Linked DNA regions of Homo sapiens. The protein of the gene in region 2 purifies or fractionates together with the protein of the main gene of each other region. This does not show direct contact. Each region holds a gene or a part of one and is shown on either strand. Other genes may lie near its edges. The genes, in order: NPLOC4, DHCR24, PPM1A, ATP12A, RTN4, REEP5 and FUNDC2.

Evidence for each region.
Region 1: the proteins of DHCR24 (region 2) and NPLOC4 purify together in Homo sapiens (co-immunoprecipitation; one large-scale study listed by IntAct). This does not show direct contact.
Region 3: the proteins of DHCR24 (region 2) and PPM1A purify together in Homo sapiens (co-immunoprecipitation; one large-scale study listed by IntAct). This does not show direct contact.
Region 4: the proteins of DHCR24 (region 2) and ATP12A purify together in Homo sapiens (affinity purification with mass spectrometry; 3 studies listed by BioGRID and IntAct, with this or other methods). This does not show direct contact.
Region 5: the proteins of DHCR24 (region 2) and RTN4 purify together in Homo sapiens (affinity purification with mass spectrometry; one large-scale study listed by BioGRID and IntAct). This does not show direct contact.
Region 6: the proteins of DHCR24 (region 2) and REEP5 purify together in Homo sapiens (affinity purification with mass spectrometry; 2 studies listed by BioGRID and IntAct, with this or other methods). This does not show direct contact.
Region 7: the proteins of DHCR24 (region 2) and FUNDC2 purify together in Homo sapiens (affinity purification with mass spectrometry; 2 studies listed by BioGRID and IntAct, with this or other methods). This does not show direct contact.

Annotation. Positions count from the first base shown.
Region 1 is NC_000017.11:81,609,613-81,613,112, reverse strand, and holds part of NPLOC4 (nuclear protein localization protein 4 homolog), read left to right. Parts: intron 1-2,854; coding exon 2,855-2,903; intron 2,904-3,500. UniProt on the Homo sapiens protein: The ternary complex containing UFD1, VCP and NPLOC4 binds ubiquitinated proteins and is necessary for the export of misfolded proteins from the ER to the cytoplasm, where they are degraded by the proteasome.
Region 2 is NC_000001.11:54,880,696-54,884,195, reverse strand, and holds part of DHCR24 (delta(24)-sterol reductase precursor), read left to right. Parts: intron 1-422; coding exon 423-578; intron 579-3,500. UniProt on the Homo sapiens protein: Catalyzes the reduction of the delta-24 double bond of sterol intermediates during cholesterol biosynthesis.
Region 3 is NC_000014.9:60,287,221-60,290,720, forward strand, and holds part of PPM1A (protein phosphatase 1A), read left to right. Parts: exon of another isoform or gene 1-1,335; intron 1,336-2,585; coding exon 2,586-2,694; intron 2,695-3,500. UniProt on the Homo sapiens protein: Enzyme with a broad specificity. Negatively regulates TGF-beta signaling through dephosphorylating SMAD2 and SMAD3, resulting in their dissociation from SMAD4, nuclear export of the SMADs and termination of the TGF-beta-mediated signaling.
Region 4 is NC_000013.11:24,704,408-24,707,907, forward strand, and holds part of ATP12A (potassium-transporting ATPase alpha chain 2), read left to right. Parts: intron 1-1,905; coding exon 1,906-2,056; intron 2,057-2,615; coding exon 2,616-2,784; intron 2,785-2,871; coding exon 2,872-3,026; intron 3,027-3,500. UniProt on the Homo sapiens protein: The catalytic subunit of a H(+)/K(+) ATPase and/or Na(+)/K(+) ATPase pump which transports K(+) ions in exchange for Na(+) and/or H(+) ions across the apical membrane of epithelial cells.
Region 5 is NC_000002.12:55,022,952-55,026,451, reverse strand, and holds part of RTN4 (reticulon-4), read left to right. Parts: coding exon 1-1,366; intron 1,367-3,500. UniProt on the Homo sapiens protein: Required to induce the formation and stabilization of endoplasmic reticulum (ER) tubules. They regulate membrane morphogenesis in the ER by promoting tubular ER production.
Region 6 is NC_000005.10:112,915,728-112,919,227, forward strand, and holds part of REEP5 (receptor expression-enhancing protein 5), read right to left. Parts: intron 1-3,500. UniProt on the Homo sapiens protein: Plays an essential role in heart function and development by regulating the organization and function of the sarcoplasmic reticulum in cardiomyocytes.
Region 7 is NC_000023.11:155,047,344-155,050,843, forward strand, and holds part of FUNDC2 (FUN14 domain-containing protein 2), read left to right. Parts: intron 1-3,500. UniProt on the Homo sapiens protein: Binds directly and specifically 1,2-Diacyl-sn-glycero-3-phospho-(1'-myo-inositol-3',4',5'-bisphosphate) (PIP3) leading to the recruitment of PIP3 to mitochondria and may play a role in the regulation of the platelet activation via AKT/GSK3B/cGMP signaling pathways.

The DNA.
Region 1 (3,500 bases), on a different chromosome or scaffold from region 2:
TCCACCTCAAAATATGTTCCCATAAAAAATTTTGAAGCATTTGGGTACAAAGAGACTGGAAAGGTATTGGGGGAGTTGGGGGCCTCACACCAAGTCTTTACTGTGATGTCCCCTGGAGATGCTGATTCCCGTGCAGAGTGGGGTGTTAATCAGCAGCTGCAGGGGAGGGAGGAGGGAAGGGGCAGGTGGTTGTGTGTGCGCATCCATGTGAGGTGAGTGCTGTGTCTCTCATTTCATAGCGGTTGGATGATTTTGACCTGCCACACTAGTGTGCGCTCTCCATCCCTGCAGCAAGCATTTCACTTGCAGAAGATGCTGTGCCTTGGAATATTCCCTCCTCACCTGGGGCTATATGAAGTGCTTATGCATATGTACATTGTTTATTTTAGATTTTTTGCAATTCCTTTTAAATAAACCAGTGAGAAGGATCTGAGTTTATACTTGGCCATGTGAAATTGTCTGAGCGAAGGTTGTCTCTGCAGTGGGGTCTTTTTTAAAATGCATCACTCTGTAGATGTGACGGGGTGCTGACTTTGCGGTATTGGGATTCCAAATGCTGCATTAGCAACTTTTATGTCTTAGATCAGAGAGCCATAAATGGTGCTCTCCTGCCATTGGCATGGAGCCACTTTGTAGCCATAGCCATTAGCCGGCATGCCTCTTCCATTTGTGTCTCCTCCCAGGGGCCTGGCACTGGCTTGCTTGCATGATCTGTGTCTTCATGGCTTCATTAGCAGCTTTTGAGAGCGTGTGTGTGTGAGAGAATTCTGAGCCATCATCACTTAGATCCTGCCTATTAGGAAGCACAGAGGCCACCTCTGTTCCGCAGCACAGGGCTCATACGCATGTAAGAATTCTGACCCCACTTAGAAAGGGGTCTGACTGAGCCCCGGAGGGACGGCCGCCGGCGCCCTCGTAAACCAGCATACCTCTCCTTCAGATTGTGCGTGTTGTGCTCCCAAGGCTTCTGTGACTGAAAATGTTAGAAAGCCGTGGGACAAGGTTTTTTCATTGTTGTTATTTCCCAAAATGCATATGAAGTAGGTATTTTCCAAACTTGGATTATTTATGCACCGCTCTCAGGCCCTTTGCCATGTTCACGTACCAGCTTTGTTATTATTTATTTAACACTTTTCTTTTTTTTTTTTTTTTTGAGATGGACTCTCGCTCTGTCACCCAGGCTGGAGTGCAGTGGCGCGACGTCCGCTCACTGCCAGCTGCGTCCCCCCGGTTCACGCCATTCTCCTGCCTCAGCCTCCCAAGTAGCTGGGACTACAGGCGCCCGCCACCACGCCTGGCTAATTTTTTTGTATTTTTAGTAAAGACGGGGTTTCACCGTGTTTGCCAGGATGGTCTCTATCTCCTGACTTGTGATCCACCCGCCTCGGCCTCCCAAAGTGCTGGGATTACAGGGCGCAAGCCACCACACCTGGCCTATTTAACACTTTTCTTTAAATGGACTTGGCCAGGCGCAGTTGCTCACACCTGTAATCCCAGCACTTTGGGAGGCTGAGGCAGGTGGATCACCTGAGGTCAGGAGTTTGAGACCAGCCTGACCAATATGGTGAAATCCCGTCTCTACTAAAAATACAAAAATTAGCCAGGCATGGTGGTGTGCACCTGTAGTCCCAGCTACTTGGGAGGCTGAGACAGGAGAATCGCTTGAAACGAGGAGGCGGAGGTTGCATGGAGCCGAGATCATACCTCTGCACTCCAGCCTGGGTGACAGAGTGAAACTCCGTCTCAGAAAAAAAGAAAACAAAAAAAAAACTATTTTATTTATTTATTTATTTGAGTGGAATTTCACTCTCGTCTCCCAGGCTGGAGTGCAGTGGCACAATCTCAGCTCATCGCAACCTTTGCCTCCCAGGTTCAAGCAATTCTCCTGCCTCAGCCTCCCTGGTTCCTGGCATTACAGGTGCTTGCCACCACGTCCGGCTAATTTTTGTATTTTTAGTAGAGATGGGGTTTCACCATGTTGGCCAGGCTTGTCTTTAACTCCTGACCTCAGGTGATCCACCCATCTCAGCCTCCCAAAGTGTTGGGATTAGAGGTGTGAGCCACTGCCTTTGGCCAATAAACTACTTACATTGACTTTGAGTTCATTCACTTTTATCTTTGGTTTGTGTCATTTTTTTTTTTTTTTTTTTTTTTGAGACGGAGTCTCGCTCTGTCGCCCAGGCCGGACTGCGGACTGCAGTGGCGCAATCTCGGCTCACTGCAAGCTCCGCTTCCCGGGTTCACGCCATTCTCCTGCCTCAGCCTCCCGAGTAGCTGGGACTACAGGCGCCCGCCACCGCGCCCGGCTAATTTTTTGTATTTTTAGTAGAGACGGGGTTTCACCTTGTTAGCCAGGATGGTCTCGATCTCCTGACCTCATGATCCACCCGCCTCGGCCTCCCAAAGTGCTGGGATTACAGGCGTGAGCCACCGCGCCCGGCCTGGTTTGTGTCATTTTAAGCAGTGGATACCCATGAAGTCACAGGTTTGATGTGCGGGTCAGTTTTTTCTAATTCATATCAACATAAGTAGTAAACTTCTGGGTGTGGTGGTGTACACCTGGAGTCCCAGATACTCGGGGAGGCTGAGGTGGGAGTGCTTGAGCCCAGGAGGTGAAGGCTGCAGGGAGCCACGATCACCACTGCACTCCAGCCTGGGCGATAGAGTGAGAGCCTGTCTTTAAACAAAACAAAACAACAATTAAAATATAAATGTTTATCCATGTGCCATCTGGAATATAACTCCACGTGGGCAGGGAAACACTCTGTTAAAGTAGGACGTGCATGTGAGACAGCAGCAGCGGAACACAGACATCCTCACTGCTCTGCCTTTTTCTGCCTTGTACTCTCCTCAGATGCCGCCACGGCCCTTTGGGGAAATGCGTGCACTGCGTCCCTCTAGAGGTGAGAGTCTCTGCGGAGTAAGTTCTGGGCCAGTGTGGGGGGCTGCGGGTAGACAGCTGTCTTAAGTGCTTGCCCTGAGTCCACGCACTTGGCTGTAGTGAGTGGTTCAAAGAACTTACCTATTTATTGCCCTGGGCCTCATATTCCCCTAGTGCAAGCTGCACACAGGACGAGCCTTTATTTATGGGAGTGACCTTCTCGCTGGATTATGAATGGCTGAAGCATTTGTGTGGCTGTGATAAAGGGGCAGCATTTACAGCGGGCTCCCTGGACAATCCTTTTCCGATCTGACACAAAGCTGAGCCTGTCGGCCTCCGTGCTTATCATTGTTGATTTACTTTGCCTTGAATCTCACATCTCTTCTACTGGTTTGTCCTGGTGAGACTGAGAGTTACCGTAATAATGCCGACTGGAACTGTTAATGCTGGGTTTACAGCAGGAAGGCCAGCCCGATTTTCTTCATGAGGCATCTCTTGCCTCATCTTGTGGCATTTCTTTTTGCACAATTTTCCTGAAACTCATTTGACTTAGAGCGTTTTGTGTTTAATAGAGATTCATTTTAATCTTGAAAAGATAACTGGCACACAAAGAAAAACT
Region 2 (3,500 bases):
AAAAAAGGGTGTCATCGTAACTTCCTGGGACTGTTGTAGGAATTACACAAGACAGTGTGCAGTAGATGCCTAGTGTGTTGGGAATACCCAGTAAATGGTCCTCATTTTTATACTTGCTATTATCACCATTACAAAACCTTTTCTGAACTTCCCAGCTAGAGTTAATGTTTTCAGAACACTTCGATCCTCTCTTCTAGCTCTTTCATCATTCTGCCTTGTGGTGTAGCAATATGTTGGCTTTTCTGTCAGCCTTGCTGGCCAGGGAGGTGCCAGAGGGTAGGGCCAGCAGGCCTTTTCATTGTTCTGTTTCTCCAGTGCCTGATGGAGGCATCATTCCCAGCTCGCCCTTGAAGAAAGCAGGGCTGCAGGCTGCTCTGGGGATTCCCAGTGGGGCCAGCTCACCCTCTGTCCTGTGGTTGCAGGTGCGGGAATGGAAGGAGCAGGGTAGCAAGACCTTCATGTGCACGGGGCGCCCTGGCTGGCTCACTGTCTCACTACGTGTCGGGAAGTACAAGAAGACACACAAAAACATCATGATCAACCTGATGGACATTCTGGAAGTGGACACCAAGAAACAGGTGAGAGTAGCACTTTTCCGGGCTCTGGGAGCAGGTGGGGCACTGCCCCTGGTGCAAGTGACTCATAGGGAGATGATTTTAGCCAAGGGCATTGCAGAGTGGACAGGACCAATGCCCACAGTCATAGAAGATACTCCCTGCCATTGCTGTCCTCAAGCCTCACAGCCACCAGGGGAGAGATGGGTCATAATAGGTCAGGGGAACCCTTTGCGTTTCCACAGGAAGTCAGGAATGGGGAATTCGTGAGCAAAAATGAGAGGCAAAAAGGAATCTACTTACCCCTTCCTGATAAGGAAGTGTGCTGGTAAAAAATGGGCTACAGAAGTGACTGAGAGACATGGGTCTTGTTACAAGCTTCCTGGAAACCCTCTTGTTTAATAGCCTTCGAAATGTACATACTTTTTGGCCCATCTAGTAATTTTACTTCTCGAAACCTGGCTTAAGGAAAAAGGAAATAGGCTTCAGTATAAAGATACCCAACACAGAGTGATTATATCACAGCTTTATTTCTAATTGACAACAACACAATATCCAATAATAGGGTAGTCATTAAATATGGTATGTCTACTTGATGGCATTTTGTTATTATTGTGAGACCTTGGCCAAGTTACTTAATCTCTCTGTGCCATTTTTTTTAATAGCTTTATTGACGTATTTAAAGTGTGGTAAAACTCTTACCACAATCAAGACAACAAACATACCCATCACACCCCAAAATCTCCTCATGCTCCTTGGTAATCCCTTCCTCTAGCCCCTAGCCCTGCCTCTTCCCCTACCCGCCCCCCACAGCCTTAGGCAAACAATGACCTTTCTGCCACTATAAATTAGTTTGATTCTAGAGTTTATATAAATGGAATCATACAGTACTTTTTGTTTGTCTAGCCTCTTTCACTCAACATCTTTATTTGGAGATTCATCCATGTTGAAAGGTGTGTCAATAGTTCATTCTCTTTCACTGCTGAGTCATATTCCCACACATATTGTGTGGATGTATCACAGCTGGTTTATCCATTCACCTACTGATGGACATTTTGGCTGGCTCCAGTTTGGGGCAATTACAAATAAAATGGAACATTTGTGAACAGTCTTTGTATGGGCACATGCCTTCCTTTCTCTTGGGCAAATATCTAGGAATGGAATGGCTAGATCATAAGGTGGGTGTACATTTAACTTTTTAAGGAAGTGCCAAATTTTTTTTCCAAGTGATTGTAGCATTTTACATTTCCACCAGCAGCGTGAGTGTTGTTCTTGTTCCACATTGTAATAGACTTGATATGGTTAGTCTTAATTTTAGCCATTCTAATAGATGTGTAGTAGTTTTTCATTGTAATTTTAATTCACATTTCCCTAGTGACTAATGATCTTTCCATGTGCATGTTTGCTATTTGTATATCTTCTTTGGTGAGGCCTGATCAAATCTTTTGCCAATTTAAAAAAATTCAGGTGGTTTTCTTATATATTCTGGAAACATCTTTTTTTTTTTTCTTTTAAACTTTTAAATTAAGTGGTACCTGTACAGGTTTGTTATATAGGTAAACGTGTGTCATGGGGTTTGTTGTACATATTATTTCATCACCCAGGTATTAAGCCTAGTACCTATTAGTTATTTTTCCTGATCCTCTCCCTTCTCCCTCCCTCCACCCTCTGATAGGACCCAGTGTCTGTTGTTCCCCTGTATGTGTCCATGTGTTCTCATCATTTAGCTCCCACTTATAAGTGAGAACATGCGGTATTTGGTTTCCTGTTCCTGCATTAGTTTGCTAAGGATAATGGCTTCCAGCTGCATCCATGTTCTTGCAAAGGAACATGGCTGCATAGTATTCCATGGTGTATACGTACCACATTTTCTTTATCCAGTCTACCACTGATGGGCATTTAAGTTGATTCCATGTCTTTGCTATTGTGAGTTGTGCTGCAGTAAACATACACATGCATGTGTCTTTATGATACAATGGTTTATATTCCTTTGGGTATATATACCCAGTAATGAGATTGCTGGGTCAAATGCTGCTTCTGTTTTTTGGTCTTTAAGGAATCACCACACTGTCTCCCACATGGTTGAACTAATTTACACTCCCACCAACAGTGTATAAATGTTCCTTTTTCTCTGCAACTTCACCAGCATCTGTTATTTTTTGACTTTTTAATAATAGCCATTCTGACTGTGTCAGATGGTATTTCATTGTGGTTTTGATTTGCATTTCTTTAATTATCAGTAATGTTGAGCTTTTTTTCATATGCTTCTTGGCCACATGCTTGTCTTTTGAAAAGTGTCTGTTCATGTCCTTTTTATATTCACTTTTTAATGGGGGTTGTTTTGTTCTTGTAAGTTTGTTTAAGTTCCTTATTGATGCTGGATATTAGACCCTGAAACAACATCCTTTATTAGATTCATGATTTGCAAATATTTTCTCACAGTCTGTGGCTTCTCTTTTGAAAACCAGAAGCTTTATTTAGTTTTTCTTTTTGAGACAGAGTTTCACTCTGTCGCCCTGGCTAGAGTGCAGTGGCACGATCTTGGTTCACTGCAGCCTCCGCCTCCCAGGTTCCGGTGATTCTCCTGCCTCAGCCTCCTGGGTAGCTGGGAGTACAGGCATGTGCCACCACACCCAGCTAATTTTTTGTATTTTTAGTAGAGACGGGGTTTCACCATGTTGGCCAGGCTGGTCTCAAACTCTTGACCTCAGGTGATCTGCCTGCCTTGGCCTCCCAAAGTGCTAGAATTACAGGCGTGAGCCACCACGCCTGGCCAAATCAGAAGTTTTAATTTTTCCCAATTTGTTAATTTCTTCTTTTATGCATTGTGGGGGTTTTGTTTGTTTGTTTGTTTGTTTGTTTATATTTTTGTTTTTTGAGACAGAGTCTAGCTCTGTGGCCCCGGCTGGAGTGCAGTGGTGCTATCTCAGTTCTCGGCAACCTCCA
Region 3 (3,500 bases), on a different chromosome or scaffold from region 2:
AATATTCACTTTACGTTATTTTGTTACAATAATAAGTTTTATATTTCTTATTATCAAGCAAGAGTTGCCACCTGGACAGAGTTTACATTGATACTCAATATTTTTGATATGTTAAAGTGTTATTATACTTGTACCATTCAATTGGAGATTGTCATAAATTAAATATGGTATTTTTTACTCAGATTTGATGAGACTGCAACTAGAGAATAAATATTACATTAAAATTGCTGCTATTTTAAAACATAGAATGTAACTGTTTGTATTGTAAAAGTTGTGTGTCCTCAGTGAAAAATACTGCCTTCAGCTTCCAAAGCAGGCACCTGAATGCCTTTTTCTTTTCTCTCTCTCTTCTTTCTTTAAATACATGCCTTCACTAGATTGCTGTGACCTACTAAACCTCATTTTATTTGCTTGGAACATTTTTGGCTTCTCTGTCCACACCATAGAAAAGGACAAAGGCCTTCCAGCTCTCCTTTTCTCTTATTTGTTCCCTTCTAAATACTTGACTCTCTGGGGGTGTGAAAAGATTCAGCTCATAATTTATACTACTATTAATTTTGTGGTCCTTCTAAGCCAATTTAAAATTATACTTTTGTGTATATATTTTCAAAATCTTTGCTACTGACTACCTTAGCTTTAAAGTTGCTAATTTGGAGATGACTGATAGAATCCCTGAAACTTGGTGGAGGGGAGTGGAAAGGAGCAGAATGTGTTTGTGTATATGTATGTGAAACATGGATCTTCTATATATAAATATTCTTTAGAAAAAGCGTTCAGTCTTTTTACAATTCTAAGTAAAACGTATAGGTCAACAGAAATTAAAGGAATATTTCTTAAAATTCATTTATTTTTCTTTTTTGAAAGCAGACAGAAGCAAGGCTAGTATAGTATGAATGGTCAGGTAGTTTAAATGCGTTGTCCCACGTGGAACAGGAGATATTAACTGTTTTTAAAGCTTTACATTATTTTTTTACAAGAATTTGTTTTCCTGTAATTTTCTTCACAGTTAAAATATCCTAATTTATATTTTAACAAAAGAGATGTAAGATACATCAAATATAGATGATTCAAGGTAATGTTTTTTAGACCTGAAACTATTGATTCAATTTATCATCAGTGTTTATTTCTATTGTATCTAGTTATCTATCCAAATAATTGTATTGGCTTAGCGGAGACTGTATGTTAAGTGTATTAGTTTTAGATTGTGAAATTGTGCAGTTTAGGTAAACATCAAATCCCTTTATTTTTGTACAGCAGATTTCCAGCATTAGAACCATGTAGAACAAATATACTAGATGTTAAAGATTACACAATAAAGGAACTTGGCAAACCAAATCTGAGATCCTTGCTTTTTGTTCAGATTTAAGACTGTTTTTTTTTTTAAGGCAAAAAATAATAGATGGTAAAAATTTGGCCTTTATTCTAAAAGGACAGTTTGAACCATTTAAAGAAATATTATGGGTAGCCATGTCTTTAAAAATTTTGAGGCCTGATCAAAGGACGAATCTTTATACACATTGTTATTTTCAAAGGTATTTACAAATTGAGAAGCAGAATGATGATTTCTTGCCCCACTAATGACAAATAAAATACCATTTCTTACCATAAACATTGAAAAACAAACTGAACAAAACTTGACCATATAACTTACAAATACTTTTGACTTGAATTTGCATGTGGAGTATGTGTGCTAAAACTGCAAGTGAAGACTTTTTATACTTAGAGGAATAGTTGTAGAGTTCTTTGTAAGGTTCTTTGTTCATAATTTTTTATATTTTGTGATGTGAATAATAGTATGCATCTGCATGACAACACTGCAGATCATATTGCTGTGCCCTTTTAATAACTGGATATTTTAAAATTATTTTAAATGCAGTTGTATGGTTTATCAAATGGTTCTCTTTTTAAACATTTTATAAGGAAATTTAGACCTTTTCTATTCAAGGCTTTGTTGAAGTAATCAGTGAAGGAAATGGTATTATATATCTATACAGTATATTGTTTAAAGGTACTTTAGAGAAGAATTAAACTGAGACAGTGATGTTCAAGTACATAATCTGTGCATGCTATTTAAGTATCATTTTGCAAATATAAATATATACATAAAAATAATTGAGTTAGTATATAATCTATAAATTCCCCTATAATTAAGGGTTGTTATTTTCAAATCTTGAAATTGTTTATTTTTTAAAATTCCACGCAGTGTATTATATAGGGCAAAGTTCAGGAAACATGTTTCCAGTCTAAAGAGAGGAGTGATGTAAGAAGAAACTAGTTGACATCTTAAGAAAGGGTATTCTCACTTGTGCACACATATCCTTGATTATATAATATGCTGATTTAACATGAAATATTTTTTCACATTTTAATTTTGATTTGAAGTTAATCTTATATGTCATTTTGTGCATTTTTTGTCATAAATCTTCAAAGGTCAACCTGATTTTTTTTTTTTTTAAATGATACCAGATTAGAAAAATCTCAGATGTGGTAAATGCCATCTTTAAAAAGCTAGGTTATCTTTGTTTCGGTTTTCTTTTCAATTAAATTTGGATAACACTTACAAAAAAAGTACTTCTGATTCCCAGAAATCATAAAGAAGCAGGGGGAAGGCGTCCCCGACTTAGTCCATGTGATGCGCACATTAGCGAGTGAGAACATCCCCAGCCTCCCACCAGGGGGTGAATTGGCAAGCAAGTAAGTTACATTCTGTACACTCTTATGCTTTATGTCAGTGTATGAAAATGTTAGGTATTCATTGATAAAATGTTTGTTTGCCTAATTTCTGAACTGATGCAGTTATCTGTGTTTTAACCTGTGATTTCAATTTTTTTTTAGTATTAGAATATCTAGAGTTTGTTTAGACATAGGTATCAGTATCATTGTAACTAATTGCAGTGAGGGTTGTCTTTATTGGAAGCTTGGTTGGCATTGATTTCCTCATAGAGCATAAACGAGATAATATACTGAAAGAACTTTTTAAACTAAATTACATAGCACTACATAAAAATTTACAAAATTCTAAGTGTCGTTGTTAGTAGTAGTATAATTTGATTTGGTCAATCCCTGAGTAACTTAACACCCTGAAAATTCCCCTTCCTCATATGGACCATGTTTCTATGCCTGATTTTCCCAGTATTTTTGGTTGTTGATTGCTGGTTAGTTGGTTTTAGGTGTCAGGGAAGAAGATAGAATATATTTCTTGTCTTTTCCCTTTCCACTTTAGTTCATAGAATTGGACTACTTTGTGTTAAATATTAAGCTTACACCTTTACATAATAAAGTGGAAAATTCAAGCAATTCCAAGGGTTAAAACATTTTTACCTCAAATATCCATATAATTGACTTACAAACATAAAACTTGCAAATACCTTTAGCTTGAATTTGGATATAGAGTAAATGTGCTAAAACTACAAGTGAAGACTTCTTGTACTTACAGTGAAGATATATTATTGACTAATTTTCTCGATTCTCTACTGTGTTTTGCAAGTGTGACCATGTTC
Region 4 (3,500 bases), on a different chromosome or scaffold from region 2:
TGGCCTTCCATTCAAGGATCTTTTGTGGTCTTTGTCTAGTTTTAGCCTGGTGATGGCCATGTGCTGGTGACGTGCACACGACGGTCCTGCCCTTAGCCTCCTCCTGTGCTCCTGTTCAGTATAGGTGGCACATTTCTTCCTATAAACCTGGACTGCTTTGCCAATTTGCTGGCCCGTATAGTGTCTTTGTGCAACCTCAACTTCCTCATCCTTTCAGATGGGCATGGATGGAACTGTGCTTGTAGCAGACTCCAGAATGTGCTTCTGTCTCAGCTCTTTGGAACGAGAGAAAGACATAATCTTCCTACGAATGTGGGAAGGTGCATTGAAATGACTTTTATGATTCTTGCCTCAGTCAAAAGTCACAAAGGGACTGCACTTCCTCTTGGTCACTGCCACTCTGCTCATGGCCACAAAAGGGAAGAGTGGATTACACATTTGTATACAAATCACCACACTGAGTGAAGTGGATGCTTTTGTGAATGTTTTCAGTTATTCACTTCATCAGCTCTAGTTTCATGACCATATAAAAATTGCATCTTAGCAGGTGTAAGGGGAAAGGAAACACCCCTTCTTTCTTCTCTTACTTTCTTTTGTTTTGTTTTGTTTTGTTTTTTTGCCAGCGGTTAAGGAGACCTGTAGTTTGAGTCAAGTGCTAGAATTCCAGTATTTAGCACCAAGAGGTAAAACAGACCTAGAAAGCTCAAAACTTGCAAATTGTAAAGAAAAAGACCTGCAGCAGTTTGTACCTACATTGTTTAAGCTGAGATTTGAAGGCTGAAATGTAGTGTTAGCCACGAGAAGCTGAGGTGAGAGATGCCCATTCCTGGTCAGGGAGCGAGACCCGTGAAGGCCTTAGGGTACAGGGGATGGAGGATGTCAGAACTGAGAGCATCCAGCGGGCAGGAGGGAGAGCCCAAGGTGAGGCGAAGCTTGACAACGCAGGCCCCACCTGGGCTCGCTGGCTAAAGTTAGGGATTCCGGGGTCTGCTCCAAGCACGGTGGAAAGCCCCTGAAGAGTTTTAGCAGGGGACTGGCTCAGGCAGCTCTGCATAATCAATAGGCCCTAGAACCTTACTTTTATAGTCAGCAGGCAATAGCGCTGCTCAAAGACTTCAGTAAACTTCTGCCTACGTAGCACATTGCACAAAGATGACACTCTGTAAATCTGAAATACCCAACGGCAAGTAATTATTACCCCTTGTTTGGCCATAAAAGAATTCTAGGACCCAAAACATATGAACAGGCAGTTTGGGGGTTTTATTTTTATTTTTGTTTTTGAGACAGGGTCTCACTTTGTCACCCAGGCTTGAGTGTAGTGGCATGATCATGGCTCACTGCAGCCTCAACCCCCCAGGCTCAAGCAATCCTCCTGCCTCAGCCTGCTGAGTAGCTGGGACCACAGGCACATGCCACCATACCTGGCTAATTTTTTAAAATTTTTTGTAGAGACAGGGGCTCTCACTATGTTGCCCAGGCTGGTCTTGAACTCTTGGCCTCAAGTGATCCTCCTACTCAGCCTCCCACAGTGCTGGGATTACAGGCATGAGCCACTGCGTTTGGCCATGAATGGGCAGTTTTTTAACTTCCTTTTACTTCTGAAGTAAAGCGTTGCTCTAGGAAGTACCACTCTCACCTGTTCTAGTAGGGATAAGGCTACCTGGTTTTTTATTCCTATTGTTATATGGTACCAAGAAATGGTGTTATATTTTAGCCTCAGTTTGCCCTCTTGAAATGGAGACTAAAGTGTTCCCAGGACTCCTGTTACCTCACTAGAGCATTAGGTATCAAGGACACTGGGTTCCAGGTCAAGTCAGAGAGGCTTCAGCCAGCATCCTGCCTGGAACAGTGTTTCAACCTAAGATCTGCCCTTGGGCCTCACCCAGTTTCTTCTGGCCCTTCTAGGGATGCCAAGGCCGCTGTGGTGACTGGCATGGAGCTGAAGGACATGAGCTCAGAACAGCTGGATGAGATCTTAGCCAACTACCAGGAGATTGTCTTTGCCCGGACATCCCCCCAGCAGAAGCTGATCATTGTGGAGGGCTGTCAGAGGCAGGTGGGTGGACAGCAGTGTCCAGAGGACTGACAGGCCCATCACTGTCCATGGGCAAGTGCAGAGGTCTGGATCTCACATCAGGCTGTGGTGCCTTTGAAACTTCAAGAGAGAGTTCTTGGCTCATCCCCATCACCTGACCTCTCCAACCTCTCAGGTGGGCTGGCCCCTGTCCTCCTTTGAGACCCCCACCACATGTTCCCCGAAAGGCTCACCCCAGCTCTCTGCATTTTGTCATGAGAGCCCGGTGAAGCATTTGCCACTGTGGTAGTTGTGAGTAAAGAGAGATTTAAAATGCAAAGATTTAAAACAAAAAATGTGAAGACATAAGATACAAGACACCTGCGCATTAGGTTTTCCTCATTTGCACGTATCTTGTTTGGAGACCCTTGTTCCTGCTTCTAAGATTTCTCATCTTTATCTTTTCCCCTAAATGGGCCTTTCCGTTCAGCTATAATCATCCTCGCAACCTCAAGAGAAAGGGAAGTCTTGTTGCTCTTGCCAGGCCTGCAACCCACTGGGCCTGCTCACTCCCACTTTCTCCCTGGGTCCCCCGCCATAGGATGCTGTTGTTGCTGTGACCGGGGATGGAGTTAATGACTCTCCGGCTCTAAAGAAGGCAGACATTGGGATTGCCATGGGGATAGCAGGTTCTGATGCAGCCAAAAATGCAGCCGACATGGTCTTGCTGGACGACAACTTCGCATCCATCGTCACAGGGGTGGAGGAAGGTGAGTGAGTCTCAGGGGGTCTTCCCAAGGGCCAGGGTGGTCTGGGGGACTAGAAGTAAGTTCTGAAGGAGAAACCTCTCTGCCTAGGTCGCCTGATCTTTGACAACCTCAAGAAGACTATTGCTTATTCCCTGACCAAGAACATTGCCGAGCTGTGCCCCTTTCTGATCTACATCATTGTCGGGCTCCCCCTGCCCATTGGCACCATCACCATTCTGTTCATTGACTTGGGGACAGACATTGTAAGTGACACTGAAGGGAACAGGCTGTGATGCCTGCCCCAGGGGAGGTCAAGTTCAGGGTCGCTACCTTCAAGGGCCGGGGATGGACTAACTCAAGGCTTCTCAGCTTCCATGTGATGGGGCCTGTAGCTCTGCATTTCTCACAGGTTCTCAGGTGGTGCCCATTCTACCAGTCCACATGCCACACCTCAAAGCAAGGGACCAGAGGCATCTGCCAAATGTTTGGAAATTAAAAACACTCTATAGTGAGCTTTTTTTTCTTGAGACAGAGTTTCACTCCCATCACCTAGGCTAGAGTGCAGTGGTGCTATCTTGCCTCACTGCAACCTCCGCCTCCCAGGCTCAAGTGATTCTTCCACCTCAGCCTCCCAAGTAGTTGGGACTACAGGCTTGTGCCACCACACCTGGCTAATTTTTGTATTTTTAGTAGAGATGGGGTTTCCTGGCCTCAAGTGATCCACCTGCCTCGGCCTC
Region 5 (3,500 bases), on a different chromosome or scaffold from region 2:
CTGACTCCAGATTTAGTACAGGAAGCATGTGAAAGTGAATTGAATGAAGTTACTGGTACAAAGATTGCTTATGAAACAAAAATGGACTTGGTTCAAACATCAGAAGTTATGCAAGAGTCACTCTATCCTGCAGCACAGCTTTGCCCATCATTTGAAGAGTCAGAAGCTACTCCTTCACCAGTTTTGCCTGACATTGTTATGGAAGCACCATTGAATTCTGCAGTTCCTAGTGCTGGTGCTTCCGTGATACAGCCCAGCTCATCACCATTAGAAGCTTCTTCAGTTAATTATGAAAGCATAAAACATGAGCCTGAAAACCCCCCACCATATGAAGAGGCCATGAGTGTATCACTAAAAAAAGTATCAGGAATAAAGGAAGAAATTAAAGAGCCTGAAAATATTAATGCAGCTCTTCAAGAAACAGAAGCTCCTTATATATCTATTGCATGTGATTTAATTAAAGAAACAAAGCTTTCTGCTGAACCAGCTCCGGATTTCTCTGATTATTCAGAAATGGCAAAAGTTGAACAGCCAGTGCCTGATCATTCTGAGCTAGTTGAAGATTCCTCACCTGATTCTGAACCAGTTGACTTATTTAGTGATGATTCAATACCTGACGTTCCACAAAAACAAGATGAAACTGTGATGCTTGTGAAAGAAAGTCTCACTGAGACTTCATTTGAGTCAATGATAGAATATGAAAATAAGGAAAAACTCAGTGCTTTGCCACCTGAGGGAGGAAAGCCATATTTGGAATCTTTTAAGCTCAGTTTAGATAACACAAAAGATACCCTGTTACCTGATGAAGTTTCAACATTGAGCAAAAAGGAGAAAATTCCTTTGCAGATGGAGGAGCTCAGTACTGCAGTTTATTCAAATGATGACTTATTTATTTCTAAGGAAGCACAGATAAGAGAAACTGAAACGTTTTCAGATTCATCTCCAATTGAAATTATAGATGAGTTCCCTACATTGATCAGTTCTAAAACTGATTCATTTTCTAAATTAGCCAGGGAATATACTGACCTAGAAGTATCCCACAAAAGTGAAATTGCTAATGCCCCGGATGGAGCTGGGTCATTGCCTTGCACAGAATTGCCCCATGACCTTTCTTTGAAGAACATACAACCCAAAGTTGAAGAGAAAATCAGTTTCTCAGATGACTTTTCTAAAAATGGGTCTGCTACATCAAAGGTGCTCTTATTGCCTCCAGATGTTTCTGCTTTGGCCACTCAAGCAGAGATAGAGAGCATAGTTAAACCCAAAGTTCTTGTGAAAGAAGCTGAGAAAAAACTTCCTTCCGATACAGAAAAAGAGGACAGATCACCATCTGCTATATTTTCAGCAGAGCTGAGTAAAACTTCAGGTAATCCAATCTATATGCAGTTTTGTGCTTTCATGCCACTTTTGGATTTAGGGAACATTCCACTACATTTTGTGTTTTATATTATGTTTATAGTGTCTCATATGTCACATTGGTAAGAAGTCTTCTCCACTTTTTCAGTTAAAGGTTTTAGTGCTTTTTCTAACTCTCTTGCACTCAGCATTCACCCTTAACTTTTCCACACAGTTACACTTTTATATTGCACTATGGAACTATTAATAGAAAATATTTTTGTTTATAAGAATTGGCTTTAGTACCTATTTCTTTCTTTCTTTCTTTTTTCACTTGTGTTTCTTGATAACATGAAGAGCAAGAGATATTAAAATATTTTCAGATGTGTTTTTGTTATCCCAGAAATTACCATATTTAATTTTTAAAGAAAATTTCTATAGTATGTTTTAAATATTTCTATATAATATAGTACTTTTCCAGTGGTAGGTATAAAGTTAGGCATATTGAGTGTAGACATTTTGTTGAAAAGTATAAAATGAGTTATGCTATTATGAATTCTTTTGAAAAGTACCGATTCTCCTTTTTTTCTTTTGACTATCCATTTTCCACATACCTGATTTGCATAAGGTGATTTGCACAAGGTGATTTGCACATGTGCTCTTTATTAGCATTCTGATTTAGCTGCGTTTTCTCTAAAATAGTGATTATGATAAATTTACTGAATATACTTATGTATTTAAGTGCTGGTGCTTCAGCAGTACAGTCCAGCTCATCACCATTGGAACAGTGGTAGACCAGTTGCTGTAATCTAAGAAAGAGGAGATTATGAACATTCAGGCAGTGGGATGAGCACAGAGACATAGGACTTGGTGTTTGACGGATAGGGACATAAAGGATGAGGGGAAGAGGTAAAGATGACCCCAGGAACCCTGGATTTCATTTCTGGCATGTGCACTTGTATGGGTGGCAGTATGAGAAACTGAGATAGGGAACATGAGAGATTAAAGTAGGTTTAAGAGGGAAGATACAAATTTGGTTTTGGATATGTTGGTATTGATGTACATACCTCTAAGATATCCAGTAAGTTATGGATATTATACACATGAAGCTCTTGAGAGAGATCTTGGCTGTATGTGTCTGTCATGGGCTTAGAGATAGAAATTAAAGCCCCAGATACCAATTAGGAAGAATCAAGAGAAGAGGACTACTTGAAGGTGGAAGAAATGGTCAAAATTATCAAATACTGGAGAGGTCAGTTAAGGATTGCAAGTTGGTCAAAAAGGAGGGAAGATATTGTCATGACAGCGGCAAATGGTGTGGTGTGCATGGGCATGGCTAGGATTGAGAAGTGAATGAGACTTGAGTAAGTGGTTATTAAATGTTGATTACTCTTAAGAAGTTTGAGATTTTTATTGGAGAAAAATTAAAATATTAGCAAGCAGGAAGGAGAGTATGCAGTGGAGGTAGGACTTTTTTTTTAAGGTGGGAAGGGGAAAATCTGATTACAGGTGCTGGCAGAAAGTCAGAAGGGGATGGGGATGTGCTGCCTAGTTCAGGTGGAAGAATTAGTGTTAGAGAGAAGGAACGATAGAGCTTTGATTGTAGTGAGTGGAAAGGAAAGTATGGGGTATTGATACTGTTAGGGTTTTGTGACTGAAAGTTGAGGGAATTATTTGATGGTTTATGTTTGTTCTTTAAAGCAGTATGTTAGTTCATTTGCTGGGAATGAAGTAGATCATGCTTGGGTGGAAGAGATCTGCAATACCTCTGACTAGGGAAACCAAAGGCATTGTATTAGGAGCCTAATCAAGGTTGAAAGGTGGTCTAAATGGTAGGGTGACTTTTCTTTGATTGTGCCAAACAACCTAGGTATGGGTTCAGGGAAGGCAAATGATTGTATTGATTCAAGGATGTGTTTTGGCAGGTGGGCCCTGTGGAAGGACAGTAAGTCAAGAAAGTTGAGGGTGATAGCAGGAGAGTAATTTGAAGTGATGGACTGTGGCATCTAAGTTGAAGGATGTGAATAGAAAAAGGTAGGAGAGGTAGGAGGAGAGTAGATGGTCAGTGAACTCAAGGCCCAGATTAGGTTTAAGAACCAATAGTAGTAGGAATAAATACATGCCAGAATGATAGGAGATTGTGGTCAAAGTAGGGGAGAGAAAGA
Region 6 (3,500 bases), on a different chromosome or scaffold from region 2:
AGGCATGCATTGCTCTGCTCTTCAACACTTTAACAAAGCACATATAGATCCAGAGAGAAAAGCTAGTGTAATGGGAACATAGGCAGCTCAGTAGAAAATACATCTGCTCTGAAGTTCTCATGAGTAAAAAAGAACAAAACATAATTACAATTTAAAAAAAAAAAAAAAAACCCACAAGAAAACAAATACACCCCCTACTAATGAGTCCAAGAAGAGAACTACAAATACACATCCTCCAGTACTGTTAAGGAAACAGCTCTGCTTCCAGTGACTAGCTGCAAAACAGAAAGTGTCTGTTCACAACTGTCATTCACACCACGGTGACTTTCTCAAAGTCTCCTCTGGGTAATAAACCTCTTTAGGAGTCTGTCAATGCACACCTTAAGCAAGTAGACTGCAACTCTTTTTAACTTGTGTTCCCCAGAATGTGTCCTCCCTTTGTGTGCTGAGCATCATTTAGCTAAGAGGATGCTGTTGCTTTTACTTGTGGTTAACTGTGTTACAACTCTTGTAGATATTTTCATTGTTTTTTTTCTTCAAATTAACCTTCTTGCCATCCCTTTCTGATCTGACCTCGATAGGGGTCATCCCCAAACATCTTCCCTTGAGATACTTGTCTCTTGAAACAGAACTAAAGGCAACGCTGCATCCCCTTAGGAAATCCAGTTCAGTGTGCCATTTTCAGGTGGCCTTGTGCTAGTAAAACAGAGCAAGCCTCTGCTGTCATAAGTCAAAGCTACATAACAGATAAGAAAAGTTGTTAGTAACATATTCTAACTAATGTCTACAAAACACAGTCAATGCCTATGTGTGCAGATATATGATTTGGGATGACAGTACCTTATTTGAGAGGAAAAATACACTGCACAAAGGTAATGTATTGACAGGGTCAACTGTTTTTTTGAAAGGCCTACATTTTTTAATTTTCATCTCTACATAAGGTGATGTTGTGTTTGTGGGACATTCAAAGAGCCACAAGGGAGGTAGCATAACGTAATCATTAAAAGCATGAAATTTGGAGCCAGATTCTTTGGATTTAAATACCAGTTTCATCATCTGCTAGTTGTGAGACCTTGATCAAGTTATTCAAATTCTCTTTCTGTGTTTCCTCATCTGTAAAAATGGGAATAATCATAGCACTTACATAATAGGGTTGTTCTGAGGATTAAATGAGCTATATTTGCAAAGCACTTAGACAGAGATATGTACATATCTGTTAAATAAAATGCTACACAGATTTCAGGAGTCATACAAAGAGCTAAATGCAATATAACTCTTTACACCAGCAGCAAAAGTTTAAAATGGGCTTGTGAGGACACACAGAAACTAAAATGACACATTACTGAACTGGGTATGAGATTTCAAAAGTGTTGTTAAAGATTAAATATATAGTGCTGGACTCTCGTCTTGAACTCCTGGCCTCAAGCAATCCCTCTGCCTCAGCACCCCAAAGTGCTGAGATTACAGATGTGGGCCATCATGCCCCGCCCCCTAAACATATTTAATCTTTCTAACATTGGCACTAAAATATGCCTAAATGTGCTTTACATTCCTGTGTAGTTCCAGACCAAGCCTGGCCTCTGTGTGACCTTGGGAAACACACTCCACCTTTCTCTGTCCCTGAATTGTCATTTTAAAACTAAAGGAACTGGACTACCTGTTTGATCTTTAAGGCCCAACTCTGATAGTCCCAGGAAGGTGGCAGCCCAAGTCTTAAGGAAAATATGAAATAAAAAGAGGAAAAGTAATAGACATTTTTATAGAATTTTAAGCAAAAAAGTTACTGGGTAGGACAGAAAGCAAACCTTCCCCTTTCCTTAAATAGAAGATAAAGTCTGAGTTTGCCTCACAATTCCATTTGTACAAAGGAGCAAGTACAGGACTAGGGCCCTGGCTCACTAGCGCCCACCCTGGAGGGACTGCACCAGGAGGACTTACTCACATATGAGGGTGCAGCACAGCATACACCCTCCAGAGGACTCTTATTTGTGCAATCCCATTAGAAGCAGGGCTGCACCAGACATTAAAGGCCATATATTGTATGATTCCGTCTACATGAAATGCTCAGAATAGGCAAACTCATAGAAACAGAATGCAGATTAGTGGTTTCCAGGGGCTGGGTAGGAGGAATAGGGAGTGATTGGTGATGGTTTCCCTTTGGGGTGATAAAAATGTTTTGGAATTAGACAGTGGTGATGGTTACACAACTCTGAACATACTAGCCACTGAACTGCATACTTTAAAAGTGTACAATTTATAAGTATCTAAATTATATCTTAGCAATGGGGGGAGGTCTATCTTTATAATAAACATTTCCAGTAGTCTGCCTCCTGTTATCAGTAAAAGAGGGAAGTAAGGAGATTAAGGTAATTATGTCAACAGTTCTTGATGAAAGGAAGGCTGGAATTAGATTCCGAATTGCCTATATAAGATGGCCAAAAATTCTAGAAACTAGAAGTCAGAGATGAAAGACCCTGTTCTCAAAGAGCTCAAAGGGAAATTATGCACACGGAAAGAACAACCAGTAGGAAGAGGGGTATACAATAAGGTACTGGTTGCTCCCCAGTGAGCACTGGGCAAGTCTTCAACCATCTACATGCTCCAACGTGCAGCAGACCCTGACCAGGAGCCAGGTGCACCTGAGCTTCACTCACAGACTTCCAAAGGGAGTCCAAAGGGAGAAAAGCTAGGAAGCCAAGTGAGCTTTTCCCAATTTCATCTTTGCATCCTGCAGTCTCTTGACCCAATACTGACACTACTCCCCTTCTTGTGATGGCCCAAGGAGAGGAAACAGCAAGAGAAAGGCTGAAAGGTGAGAAAGGAAGGAAGTAAATTACTGGCAATAGTTTGGCAAGATCGCGAACTCCTTACAGAGGTCACAGCAGCCAAAGTGACCTTAAAATATAAATCGTATCATGTCACCCCCTATTTAAAACCCATCCAAGGCAATCAGAAAATGCAAACTCCCTACCACCATCTGGAATGAAATGCACACTTCTACCACTGACCCTACCTGCTGGCACCTGCACCTCTCTGGTGCCTCCCCCACCACTCTTTGCTCACACAGAGCTAAGCTGTGTGCTGCCTCAGGGCCTGACACACTCTTCTCCCTCTCCCTGGCTCTGCTCTTGGCTGGCCCCTTCTCATTCCTCAGGTCTTCTCTACCAGAACTGTTTATTTACTTTAGAGGGCTTACCACACGGTCACTACTTTGCCTATTTCTTGCCTGGGTAGACTGCTCATTCAACAAGGACAGAGAGTATGACTACCTTATTTCTTGCCATATCTAAAGTGCTACCACAGTGCCACACATGTGACTGGCATTTGATTTTTGCTAAATAGATGAACCTGTATTTTAAAAAATAACTCTGGCTAGGGAGCATAAGAGTTACAAGAGGTATGGAGAATAGTTAAAATGAAGGTGACTGCTATGGTCTGAATGTTGTGTTCCCCCAACATCCATATGTTGGGACCTAATACCCAATGTATTAGTATTAAAT
Region 7 (3,500 bases), on a different chromosome or scaffold from region 2:
CACAGCCGTTTGTCTCTTCCCACAGTTGGCAACCCTCACTTTTGCAAGGTAAGTTCTGCATTAGCACCATGATTGGAGTGAGTTTTGCAGATAGGTCAGGTGAAAATCAAATGTATCGAAGAGGGAAGCTGGTAACTGGCTGTAGCTGGGTTGAGTGTGGTATTGCTGCATGACAAATTCCCCCAAACCTAATGGCTTCAAATAATGATCACTTTATTCTCTCTCATGGTTACAGGAGTTTGGGGAGGGTTAAGGTAGGTGCTTGTGGATCAGAGTCTCATGTGGTTACAGGCCAGATGATCAGAGGGTTAGGGTAGGTCTGGACTTGTGGGGCCTCTTTGTGTCTCTGTCTCTGTTTGTCTTCCCTCCTCCTCTCCTTATTTCCCCCCTGTCCATAGTCTCAGTGCTCTTCCATGTGGTCCCTGTGCCAGTATAGGCTTCCTCACACTACCATGACCTCAGGACTCCCAAGCACAGTTCTGCAGAAACATGGTGCAAGTTGCATCTCCTTTGTTGCCCAAGCCTCACTTTTGTTGGCTGCTTCCCTGTGGGCTTGTTACGTGCTGGCTCTGTTGCTAGACAGGTCAGACTCCCTGCAAGGTGGGGCCCCTCCTCACACCTCTCTCTCCTTCCCCTTGACCCTTCAGGTGGAAGTGCAGTAACATCTCTATCCCTGTGGTTTCCCTTATATGCTGCCCCAAACTTCATAAACATTTTAATATTGCTTTGAAATGTCTTAATTTGAGTGTGTCCTCTGTTTCGTTTTGGGGCCCTGACAGAAATAATTGGTATTGAAAATGTCTCCAGAAAGGCACCTCAAAATGAGATTTTGGGGTTGGATAATTCCAATATTCAAGGGGTACAGGGACACTGCTTTGCTGCAGAGGTGAGACATGGAGAATCTGTGGCAGGCACTCATGTTATCTGTCACCAGGGGAGTGAGAGCAGGAGGCAAGCATAATGTTGGGAGATCAGTTATATCACAAGTTATAGTTTGACATAGGGATCCAGTTTCCTTTTTTCCATACTGATAATTGAGCAGAATTTAGTGAATAATTCTTCCCTTTCCCAACATTTGCAGCATTGTCTCTTTCATATATCAGAACCCATGTATGTGTGGCTGTGACTCTGGTTTCTGTGTTCTGTTCCACTGGTCAACTTTCGATCTTTATGACAGTACTAAAGCTTAATATTTGGTAATGCAAATTCCTCCACCTTATTCTTCAGGAGTGTTGCAGCTACTTTTGTGTTTCTGCTCATTCATCTAAATTTTAGATCAGACTTGTCAGTTATTTTCAAAAATCCTGTTGAAATTTTTATCGGAATTGCATTGGAACCATGTAGATATCTCTTATGATATTGAGTATTCTATCTGTGAACACGGGCTTTCTCTCCAATTATTTAGGTCTTCTTTAATGCCTTTGAATAGACTTTTTATTATTTTTCCGTATAGATCTTGTACATCTGTGATTCAGTTTTATTCCTGGATACCTTATAACTTTAGTTGCTCTTGTGGATGATACGATTTTTAAAACTACACATTCTGATTCATGCTAGTGTGTTGAAATACAGTTGATATTTTATGTTGCTCTTTCAGCCAGCCACCTTGTTAAAAAAGTCTTGTCTGGGATTCTTTTGGGTTTTGTCTATAAAATCTTTTTATGCCATCTGTGAACAGTGAAATTTTTCCTTCACGTCTTTATGAATGTAGTTGCTTTTTCTTACCAAGCTGTAGATCATTTCCAGCACTTTTTGCAGCTTTCAGAGCCCAGCAGCAACGCTTGCCAGTTTTCAGTTTATTCGGCTCCCTCTACTTGTTGTGCTGCAATGGAAGTAGGATGTTGAGCTTTGTCAGTAGAGGGCGCTGGAGGGACCTTGCAGCGGGAGAGGCTGCTTTTCCCAGTTCTGGTGTTGCTTTGCCCCTGCAGTGCAGTCCCCCAGTAATGCCAAGGAGAGCAGGAAGTCACCTCGCAATCCTGGCCTGGGCCACCCAGGGGACTTCACCACCACCATTACTACTTTTGCCCCCTTGTGAAAAATCAGTTTGTTGTAGTTGTCCACGTCCGTTTCTGTACTTTTTATTCTGTTCTGTTGGTCTGTGTGTCTATCTCTTCTTCAGTATGACACACTGTCTTGACTACTGTAGCATTATAGTAAATCTTAAATCAGGTAGTGTGATTTCCCCAACTCTGTTCTTTTTCAGATTCATTTTGGTGATTCCAGTTCCTTTGCCTTTCCATATAAATCTTAGAACCGGCTTATTTATGTATCTATAAGAAATCCTACTGGGATTTGTGATTTGGGATTGCAGTAAATCTATGGATAATTTGGAGAGAACTGGGCATCATTTCTGTGTTGAGTATTCCATTCCATGTACATGATGTGTCTCTCCATTTATTTAGGTTGTCTTTGAGTTCTTTCTTCAGCATTTTGTAGTTCTCAGTATACAGATCCTGTATGTTTTATTTGATTTGTACCTAATATTTAATTATTTTTTGCACCCATTGTTGTAAATCATTTAAACATTTTTCATTTCCAGTTCAAATTGCTAGCATATAGAAATTCAGTTGGTTTTGTGTGAATTTGTGTCCTGTGACCCTGCTAAACTCACTTTTTTAGTCTAGGAGTTTTTGTTTTTTGTTGAAGTCTATGAAATTTTCTATGTAGACAAAGATGTCTATGATTGGAGACAGTTTGACCTCTTCCTTGTGAATCAGGATGCCTCCTAATTCTTTTTCTTGCCTTGTTGTGCTGACTCTGAATTCACTTCTGGTACGATATTTAATAGGAGTGGAGACGGCGGACAGCTTTGCCTTGTTCCCTGCATTCGTTCTTTCACCATTCTGTACAGTGTTAGCTGCAGGGTTTTTTATGTAGATGTTCTTTATCAAGTTGAGGAAGTTCCCCTCTATTGCTCTTTCTCTGAGAGTTTTATCATGAATTTGCGTTGAATTTTGTCAGATGTTTCTTGAGTCCTGCCTTGAGGTTAGGCCAGGCGATACTGCAGGAAAAGCAGGAAACACGCCACCAGTTTGGTGGTGCTTTGAATTCTGGTCTTCTCCAATCTGCACGTCGCTGTTTTTATGTAAGAGCCTTCAAATAGCTAGTCCATGTATTCTCTCAGTTTAATAGCAGGATTTTGTGGGATAAACAGGGTGGAGTAAATGAACCAGAGCCTTCTTTTAGATACAAATGTTGATACTCAACTATGTGGTTGCTGTAAGTAATTTGTTCTTTTTAGTACTAAGTAATATTCTATTGTGTAAATATGATACAATTTGTTTATCCATTCATGTGTTGATAGACTTTTGTGTATTTCCAGTTATAGACTCATAAATAAAGGTACTATGGCTTGATTACTTGTGAAGTTGAACTTTTTCCTTTTTGTGGACACTTTCCTCTGAATTGCCCTTACCCATTTTTAAAGTGAACTTTCTTACTGATCTCTATAAGAAGTTCACTTTTTTGAGTATCAATGTTTTGTTTATGATACACATCAC